2 separate regions of the Homo sapiens genome follow, and region 1 is linked to region 2. The links come from fine-mapping of genetic effects on gene expression. A gene starts in region 2. The other region holds a variant in brackets. All regions are shown on one strand. Distances are between the middles of the regions.

Region 1 (5,380 bases), 48 kb before region 2:
TCATTAGCTGCTGAACACACCTGCAATTTAGTATCATAATGCCAGGTGAAATTGGCACAGTGGGTGGTAGGAGTTTTCCTGGAAGCCATTTCTACACTAAGGCAGCTATCAATCAGTTAACTAGATATAGAAGTGTCAGTGAACCACATAATATATATTCTCCTAAATCCAAACTAAATATACCACCAACACAACAACCTCTTATCTGTATTCCAGAAATGCTCATGGCCACTCCAGCATCACTTGACCTGAGGGGAAGTGTGACAGAGGGAAGTTGGAGTGGTAAGAGACAGTCAATCACTAGCAATGAAAATATTTTACATTTGTAAATTTTACAAAAACACTTGCCCGTGCCCAAGACCACACATTAAAAGAGAAACTAAAGCCTGTCCATGGAAGGGTGACCAAGATGATGTAATGAGTTGAAAGCATCCTATATTAGGAGGATTTAAAGAGTGTAGGGAATTTGGCCTGGAAAGAGGTTTATCGGGGACATGAGTTTATCTACATTTTTTTTAAGAAGATTTAGATTGTTTTGTATGTGACCCAAGGAGTCAACCAAGGAATAGAGGCTCTAAAGTAACACACTTTAGGTTGGGCATGGTGGCTCACGCCTATAATCCCAGCACTTTGGGAGGCTGAGGCGGGCAGATCACCTGGGGTCAGGAGTTTGAGACAAGCCTGGCTGGCCAACATGGCAAACCCCCATCTCTACCAAAAATACAAAAATTAGCCTGGCATGGTGGTGCATGCCTGTAGTCCCAGCTACTCGGGAGGCTGAGGCACTTGAATCGCTTGAATCCAGGAGGCGAGGGTTGTGGTGAGCCAAGGTCACGCCACTGCACTCCAGACTGGGCGAAAGAATAAGATTCTGTGTCAAAAAATAAAAATAAAAATAAATAAAGTAACACAATTTTTTTTCAATATAAAGCAGAATTTTCCAACACGGGTATTCAGAGAAGTAAAGAGGTAATGAGTTTCCTATTACTTGAGACTCTCAAGGAAAAATGGACAACCCCTTGTCAGCTTTTTATAAGGGGAATATCAGCACCAGGTAGATGGTTAACTAAATGTCCCTTAAATATACTCCAACATTGAGATCCTGTGATTCATAAAAGAATGATCTATAATCTGGATGACAATTTATGTATTATCTAAAGAATTATATATGCCATGCTGATTGGACCCTTATGTCTGTGAGGTAGGACCCCCATTCCCAATATCAGAGTACTAGGAAGTCTTTTGATAAGCTGGTGATCACAGAATCTGAGCTAAGATAGTCAGATGATCTTAACGGAATATTACTATTAAGCTGCAGCAGCAAACTCACTTGGCCCTTTTCAAGGTAAGATTACACCAGCAAATTCAACTAAAATATCCATGCCCCAAATCTGAAACCTCCCTCTCTTGGGCAATGCCGGACACACTAAAAACTTCTCACCATCAAGACATTTATGTGGCCAACAAACATACGAAAAAAAGCTCATCATCACTGGTCATTAGAGAAATGCAAATCAAAACCACAATGAGATGCCATCTCACGCCAGTTACAATGGTGATCATTAAAAAGTCTGGAAACAACAGATGCTGGCGAGGATGTGGAGAAATAGGAATGCTTTTACACTGTTGGTGGGAGTGTAAATTAGTTCAACCATTGTGAAAGACAGTGCGGTGATTCCTCAAGGATCTAGAACCAGAAATACCATTTGACCCAGCAATCCCATTACTGGGTATATACCCAAAGGATTAGAAATCATTCTACTATAAAGACACATGCACGTGTGTGTTTACTGCAGCACTATTTACAATAGCAAAGACTTGGAACCAACCCAAATGCCCATTAATAATAGACTGGATAAAGAAAATGTGGCACATATATACCATGGAATAGTATGCAGTCATAAAAAAGAATGAGTTCATGTCCTTTGCAGGGACATGGATGAAGCTGGAAACCATCATCCTCAGCAAACTAACACAGGAACAGAAAACCAAACACTGCATGTTCTCACTCATAAGTGGGAGTTGAACAATGAGAACACATGGGCACAGGGAGGGGAACATCACACACTGGGGCCTGTTGGGGGGTGGCAGGCAAGGGGAGGGAGAGCATGAGGACAAATACCTAATGCATGCAGGGCTTAAAAACTAGATTATGGGTTGATAGGTGCAGCAAACCACCATGGCACATGTATACCTATGTAACAAACCTGCACGTTCAGCACATGTATCCCAGAACTTAAAGTAAAATAAAAATAAGTTAAAATAAATAAACAAAACTTCTCACCATCAACCTCCCTTTTTTGTAAATTCTCCCAGAATTGCTTTCCTTCTGTTGGCTCTAGACATTATAATAGTCCCCTCCACCCTGTATTGCTTCACCTGTCTTAATGTTTGCATTTCCCAGGTTTATGGATTATGCGGCATTGACTAAATTTGAGGTTGCTTCCTGGAGATCTCTAGGGAGTACTTAAATGTCATCAGTAACTTATTCACAGTTTTACCATAGACTGCAGTCTTTTGGAAAGATTTCCTGTAGACGGTTGATCCCACCCATGGTAGGTGGATTCTTGCAAACTGTAAACACAAAGCCCTTACCTGACCTGCATGTTGTGTCTTCTCCCTGATCACTTGTGTCTGTCCTCATTTGTCCCAAATTTGCCTTTACAGTTACAACTCTTGTACACCTCTTCCAGGAATTAATATATAACAGAGAGTGTTGAATTACTTAACAGTTTAAACATGTGCTTAGGACATCAGAAAAAATTGTTTTGAGAATTATTTTAAGAATTTATAAAAGAATTTGATGGTTGGTTTTCAAAAACAAAAATTTAAGTAGTCATGGGGAAAATGATAGTTTGTTTTACTTATTTTATTGTTTATAATTAC[G/A]TTTAATTTGAATCCATAGAGGATGGTGTTGGGAGGACATTCGTTTATTTATTTATTTATTTACTTATTTTAATTTTATTTTTTTTAAGACGGAGTCTTGCTCTGTTGCCCAGGCTGGAGTGCAGTGGCGCGATCTCGGCTCACTGCAAGCTCCGCTTCCCGGGTTCACGCCATTCTGCTGCCTCAGCCTCCCCAGTAGCTGGGACTACAGGCGCCCGCCACCGCGCCCGGCTAATTTTTTTTGCATTTTTAGTGGAGACGGGGTTTCACTGTGGTGTCGATCTCCTGACCTCGTGATCCACCCGCCTCGGCCTCCCAAAGTGCTGGGATTACAGGCGTAAGCCACCGCGCCTGGCCCATTTGTTTCTTTTAAATCTTAGAGCCTTTAAAGGTATTAATTTGGTCTTGATTACAGCGTCCAAAAATGAAACATCCCATAATGATAAGAGGGACTGATACATGTGGAATTATTTGAAATCAATTCTTTTTACTATGTTGGAGCAGAACCAGACCTCACCAAAGTAGCACCTTGTAAAGGCAATATGGTATGATGGAGCTGGATTTGACCTCCAGCTCCCCACTCACTATTAATGCTCCCTTGGAAAAGTCTAACTTTGCTCAGCCTCAGTTTCTTCATCTGTAACCTAGCGTACTGATCCCTCATGGAGAAAGTGTTCAAATTGTAGCCTATATTGATAGGCAGAAGGCAAAGTGGTGGTACGGAAGAGATGGTAGAGCAGTATGGTGTACTGGTTAGATATAGATTCCAGAGCCAGTCTACCTAGGTTTGAAGCCTGCCTCATTATCCATAAAATGGGTTGTTATAAGAATTAAATGAGTTAAAGTATGGAAAGCAATGAGAACACTGCCTGACATATAAAAAGCACTCCATAGTTGCTTGCTATAATAATGATGATGATGATGAGCCCTAAGAAAATATAAGCAGAGGACCTAAACTCAATGGTACTTTCTTTTGCTATTGAAAAGGGGAGCAGAAACTATAGATCAGAGACCATTATTATACAAACTTTGTAAGATTATGAAACTTTTGTCACTACCTTATGTCCGTCGGTTTTACCCTGTTTTCTCCAGAGTTTAGCAAATTTTAAATGAGCCTGTGTGCTTGGCTTCAATAGTAGCAAGAAACTGGGAAGGTGCAGAGTTTGTGTCTCATTCTGCAGCTAGGCTTGGGGAGTAATTACCAAAGAAGAAAACAGGTGGTATCCCCATGGCCATAAGGAAGAAAGAACACTGGGGGTGGCCCTAGGCCTGGAAAGGGGCCTGGGGACTCAATGATGGAAAGGTTTATGTAGTTCCCTGTTCTCCCTACTTCCATCACAGGGCTGTGGTGAGCATCAAATGAGCTGGTATGTATAACAGTGATTTTTAGGCCAGTAAGTATCATGGAGACATCACTAGAATAGCAATGAGTACTTTCATGTTACATCTGCTACTTTGGAAATCTGCCCTCAAAAGTGTATATGTGAGACTTATTCAGCTCAGAAACAATATTCAACTCTTGCCTTTTCTTGAAGACCGATTAAGCTCTGCCTCTTCCAGGAAGTCTTCTCTGACCACCTCAGTCATCATACCACACTGTCTTCCAATTTTTATAGCATGACATAGCATGAGTTCCTCATCTTCTTACCTCTCTCATAGCCTGTGAAACCTCCCATTGTTATTTACCCTTTTCTGAGCAAGTCCTATCTTATCCAGATTGCTCCTTAAGGCAGAGCACAAAGCTCTCTATGCACAGTAGATGTTCAATAAACATTTGTCATGTGATGGTGTGGTAGGCAGAATAATAGCCCCCTAAAGATGTCCACATCCTAAGCCTGTGAATACGTTACCTTGCATGGCAAAGGGGAATGAAGGTGGAATTAAGGTTGCTAATCAGCTGACCCCAAAGCAGGGAGATTATTATGGATTCTATGGGTGGCCTAATGTAATCACAAGGATCCTTAAAAATGGAAGAGGGACACAGAAGTCAGAGTGATGAGATATGAGAACATGACCCACTCTTACTGACTTTGAAGATAGAGAAAGGAAGCCAGGAGCCAAGGAATGTGGGCTGGAACTTCTCCCCCAGAGCCTCCAGAAAGGAATGCAGCCCTGTCAGCACCTTGATTTTAACCCAGTGAGACCCAATGCAGAATTATGACAACCAGAACCATAAGATAATAAGTGTGTGTTGCTTTAAGCCACCAAGTTTATAGTAATTTGTTATAGCAGCAATAGGAAAGTAATACAGATGGTAAAGAAAAGACTTTCCTGCAACCATATTTACTGGCTCTGAACTGACTACTCTGCCTGGGAAAGAAGATAAGCCGGGTGCAGTGGCTCACACCTGTAATCCCAGCATTTTGGGAGGCCGAGGCGGGCGAGTCACTTGAGCTCAGGAGTTTGAGACCAGCCTGGCCAACGTGGTGAAACCCCATCTCTACTAAAAACACAAAAAATTAGCCAGGCATGGTGGCGGGCACCTGTAATCCCA
Region 2 (5,380 bases):
TCTGATAGAGCCTAATCGATTCCTCCCCACTTAAAAATTTATTGATAAAAAATTTTTTTGGCCTTATTGAGGTATAAGTGACAAATAAAAATTATACATGTGTACAGATATGAAATTTTATAAAGGAGTGAGTTCCATCCTTAATTAGTTTCACAGACTTTTTAGTTGTCTAATGATGAGGTATCTTCCCATTGCAACACTCTGACCCATATTCCTCGGCTGACTGCAGTTGTCTGCCTCTCTTGCAATCAAGACAAACTTGGTCCATTCCTTACTCCTGAACTCATAAGTTTTGCAACATCTCTCTACCTTGAAAACCCCATAGCATCCAGATGAGACTGTTGACACAGGTGCCTATCTCGCTAGGATTAAGTGCATTCTTTCCACTTCAAGGCAATCTGAATGGAAATACTTGATACTATTAAATTGTGCTACTGCATCCACATAGAGAGATGAACTGCCTTCCTTTGCCCCCTCCCAACTTCGTATCTTTATTGCAGAAATATACAAAGAGATAAATAGGAAACTGATAAACCGACAGAGAACTGAACTATATTGGGTTGGGGTACAGATTACCACAGATGGTTTAAAATAGTTTCCAGATGTCACATTACTCTGGAAAATTTGAAAATGGCAGTAGCACCAGCCCAAGCAGCTCAGGGTAAAGAAACTTTTATCCAATTTACAAAGCATCCAAAAGGTAGAGTCAAAATTACACACTCAGACCAGGCGCGGTGGCTCACTTTGGGAGGCTGAGGCAGGAAGATCACTTGAGCCCAGTCTACATAACGAGATCCCGTCTCTACAAAAAAAATTTTTTTTTTTTTGAGATGGAGTCTCACTCTATCGCCCAGGCTGGAGTGCAGTGGCACCGATCTTGGCTCACTGCAACCTCTACCTTCCGGGTTCAAGTGATTCTCCTGCCTCAGCCACCAGAGTAGCTGGGATTACAGATATGCGCCACCACACCCAGCTGATTTTTAGTAGAGACAGGGGTTTCACCATGTTGGCCAGCTGGTCTTGAACTCCTGACCTCAGGTGATCCACCCGCCTCAGCCTCCCAAAGTGCTGGGATTACAGGCATGAGCCACCACACCCGGCCTATAAAAATTTTTTTTTAATTAACCAGGCATGGTGACACATTCCTTTGGTCCCAGCTACTTGGAGGCTGAGGTGGGAGGTTCGCTTGATCCCAGGAGATCAAGGCTGCAGTGAGCCATGATCGCACCACTGCACTGTAGCCTGGGAGGCAGAGCAAGACCTTGTCTCAGAAAAAAAAAATTTTTTAAATAAAATTACACACTCTGCAGCTATGGCCTTCATGCACAGGGTGATCACGTCTTGTTGTTCCCATTCTAGTTTACACAGGCCAAATAGCATCGTTCATTGTTTTGGAACACAAGTACATACCACATGTTCATCATGGTGGCATTTAAGATTTCAGGTAAGTTTTCTGAATGGTAGACAGGGAAGCCGAGAGTGGGAGGAAATGAGAGAATTGATTAGAGCCATAGTATCCATCTTGTAAATCTTTCATCTTTCTCTGCCCAAGTCTGGGGTGGGGTTAGGGGGGTAAGGAAAAGATTTAAAAGTTGCTCACCTGATAACAGGTCCCAAGAGGATTAGATGCATAAATAATGATAGCGGTTTATCTTTGGCTAGATCTCTGTGGACAAAAATGAGGGTCAACTGGACCATAATGGATGAAAACATAAAGAAAGAAAAGGTGTATGTCATCCAGTAAGTTTCACTATTCTTTCGATAGATTCTAACCATGTACAAAGCAGATGCAGCCTCCCCACAGTACAAAAAGGTGGAGAAAAGGATGCTAAATGGAAAAGTAAATCGGGGGTTGGCTCCACGGATGACATCTTCCTCCAGAGATGAAACCGGATCCACATTTGGCTCCTCAGGAATTTCATAAACTCTGTCCATTGTCGAGGTTCTTTCTGAATGTTGTGGTCTTGTGTTCATAGCACCCTCCCACCCATCCCCAAGAGAACCCTATGGCCGCTACAGTCCAAGTATAGGTGAGGAGAGCTCTGTCAAGTCCAGTTTGGGAACAGAGATTCACTAGTTAGAGCAAGAAACCGCTCTCTTCTAGACTCAGATTCGACTTGGAGTCTGGGATGGAAAGCCCAGGAGTACCACTTTGAACTTGACTCTTGATTGGCCCCGATTCCAATCGTCAACATACTTGCTGTGAAACTTGAACAAGACAAAAGCAAGCATCCCAGCGCCCCATCCAGAGTCCAACTCCAGGGACGTGAAGAGTCATGAGAACAGCGGCTTCCGTGGCGGCTCCTTTCGCAGCCCCTCAGGCAGGGTGTAGCCGATCTGTCGGGGGCACCGACACTCAGCAGCTCCTCACAAAGAGTCCTGACCAGTGTGTCCTCTCAAGTCAGCGGAGAGCTGAGCCAGGGCAGAAGAGCGGGCGCAGAAGAAGGAGGGCAGAAGAGGGGATTCAGTTCAGTGCCTAGGTATCCTAGCTATTGCTAGGCTGTAGCTATCAGCTGGCCCGCTCACCTGCGCGCTCTCAGGACCTTTGCCGAGTCCAGGGTTCTCAGGATAGCTCCTCGGATTCCCCCAAGCCCCGCCCCCAAGACCGCCTGGCCCGGGAGTGGAGTATTGTCACCACCCTGTCTCCGAATGCAGTGTTGAGGGACAGAAGCAGAGCGCGCTCGCTCTACAGGATGAAGAAAAGGCTGGAGGGGCTGCTTCTCCTCGGAGAAACTTTGCTAGTGAGAGGCACGATGTGCGGGGCGCCAACCTGGCTGGACGGAGGTCGCCAAACTCTTGGACGCCGTCTGCTGCCAGGGTCCTGCCTGGTCTGCGATTCCAGCTGCGAGAGGTCGGCAGCTTCAAAAACTAAGGCACCGGGACGGCGGGGGCGGGCGAGATGGGCGGGACGGCTGCGGCCAAACAAAACCAGCCGGAGAGTTCCCGGGCAGGCGGCCAGCCGAGGGATGCTCGTTGTGGAGTGGCGGGACAAAAAGGGGCTTGGGCCGCTCTTCAGAAGCACTTCTGACCACCACCTCCAGACCCAGGCAGGAGCCACAGCTTTACTCCTCCCTAGGAGCAGCAGGCCCCCACTTCTACCCCGCCCTCCCTAACTAGTTAAGTGACTTGCTTCAACACTCACTCTACCCACGCTGTTAGGCAGGTGTGTCTCCCTCCGCCGCAGGGTGGAACCTCCCTAGGTCCTATTGCCCTCCAGATAATATCATGAAGGGGGAACCTGGGAGGAATAGGGTCAGAGTTTTCGGCGGAGGGAAGATAGAACAGGATAAAGGTCAAGACTCAAGGTCAGCCCACAGACACTGAAAGCTCATATTTTATGCCTTGATTTCTCCACTTGCAAAATGAGGCCAGGATAGGAGCTTTAGAATGAACTTACAGGTCTTTGGTTGAAAGGTTATGAAGAGGTGCCAAATTCTAAACAGACTGGCAAAGAGCCAAGAGAGAGCTGTTAGTAAAAACTGAGAGGGGTGTCTTAAAGAGCTTTGAAAATTACCTGTATTCTTAAGTGTAATCCTCCCCACCTCACTGAGCTTTTGTTTTCATATCTTCATTTGCATAATTCTAAACCTCAGAGAAAAAGAGAACACATCTGCCTCCTGGTAATAATATAGATGAAGGCCAGGCACAGTGGTTCACGCCTGTAATCCCAGCACTTTGGGAGGCTGAGGCAGGCAGATCACTTGAGGTCAGGAGTTCGAAACCAGCCTGGCCAACGTGGTGAAACCCCATCTCTACTAAAAATACAAAAATCAGCTGGTCGTGGTGGTGCGTGACTGTAATCCCAGCTACTCAGGAGGCTGAGGCAGGAGAAAAACTTGAACCCGGACGGCAGAGGTTGCAGTGAGCTGAGATCACGCCACTGCACTCCAGCCTGGGCAACAGAGCAAGATTACGTCTTAATAATAATAATAATAATAATAATAATAATAATAATAATGATGATTATGTAGCAGAGCCTGTGCCAATCTCCTTTTGCTGCAGGAAGTCAGTAAAACAAATCTATGTGAGGAGTGGCCAAGTAGCAGCCACCAAAATAATGGCCTCCAGGTTGTCCTGTCATTATGTTGTTTTTTGTTTTTTTAAGGTTTCCATGATTGCTGCCTCCTTTCCCCAGGGCTGATTCAGGGACAGATTCAACATCTAAAGGTTGTCACCTTCTGAAGCAGACTCCGCATCTTGGTCTGCACCTATGCTAGCAGCTGGGCTAGGAGGCTGCTCCTTTCTCCTTTCCATTTCATGAAGGAGGTCAACACTATTGAGAACAACTTCAGAGAGTGTTCTTTTTCTTATTAGTTGGGACATTCCAACTGGGACAAGGTTCTCCACCACCAGTATATGGTGCAGAACCTCTTGGGGCTGCTCTAGGTAACTGTTCACAAGGTGAATCTCAGGCAAGGTGACCAATTAATCCCATTTCACTGGGATAGGGTGAGTTGGTCCCCCTAAACATGAGAGAGTCAGCCGGGCGCGGTAGCTCATGCCTGTAATCCCAGCATTTCGGGAGGCCAAGGTGGGTGAATGGCCTGAGATCAGGAGTTTGAGACCAGCCTGACCAACATGGTGAAATCCTGTCTCTACTAAAAATTCAAAAATTAGCTGGGCGTGGTGGTGGGCACCTGTAATCCCAGCTACTCGGGAGGCTGAGGCAGGACAACCCCTTGAACCCAGGAGGCAGAAGTTGCAGTGAGCCAAGATAGCACCATTGCACTCCAGCCTGGGTGACAAGAGTGAAACTCCATCTCAAAAAAATAAAAATTAAAAATAAAAAAAAAAAAAAACATGGGAGAGTAAAGCTAAGAAGAAGAATGTAGAATCCCAACGTTTACCTTTTAGCCTTTCCTCCTTCTTCTCCATGGCCTTGTCTCTCCCCAAATACAAAAATTTACAATGCCTTCCTACTTTGTTCCAAAATGACTCCTTCTGTCTGTCATTCAAGGCTCTATATAATCATCACACTACTTCCCTCTCAGATTTTATTGCCCACACTACTCCTTCCACAAGGCCAGCCAGTTTTCTCACTTCTCCTATTTGCGTTGCTCACTCCCACCTCTGCCTTGTTGATGCGATTTACAACCCCCTTCACCCTTTTCTCCATTAGTCCAAACCATAACTTTCTTTCAAGGGTCAGCCGAAGTGCTCCCACCTCCAAGAAGCCTTCTGTCACCTCCCCAACCCTCATTTTTCTCTCTTCATGCTACTGGCACATGCTCTCTCATACTAGTCCTTCAACTATTTCTGTGTTTGTCCTGCCTCCCCCCAAAAATGTAAAGTTAGTGAGGGAAGGATGCTCAATGACTGTTTATTGTGGCACTTGTTGATGACAATGGTGATTGACAAATGGTGATGATGATGACGCTTC

What was found. PIP is the estimated chance that this variant, and not a neighbour inherited with it, causes the effect.
Region 1: its variant is the best candidate, but not a certain one, in a credible set for the expression of XKRX in nasal epithelium (TOPMed, PIP 0.53).

The regions. Positions count from the first base shown.
Region 1 is chrX:100,878,080-100,883,459 of GRCh38, forward strand. No RefSeq gene overlaps it. Among named protein-coding and RNA genes, the nearest start is that of NOX1, 6.4 kb to the left of the region's middle. The variant G/A (reference allele first, on the strand shown) is at 2,887.
Region 2 is chrX:100,926,370-100,931,749 of GRCh38, forward strand. XKRX (XK related X-linked) reads right to left here and starts at 2,548. Exons shown (of 3, transcript NM_212559.3): 1 at 1,601-2,548. The coding sequence starts at 1,935. RefSeq lists enhancers at 752-1,951, 3,145-3,194.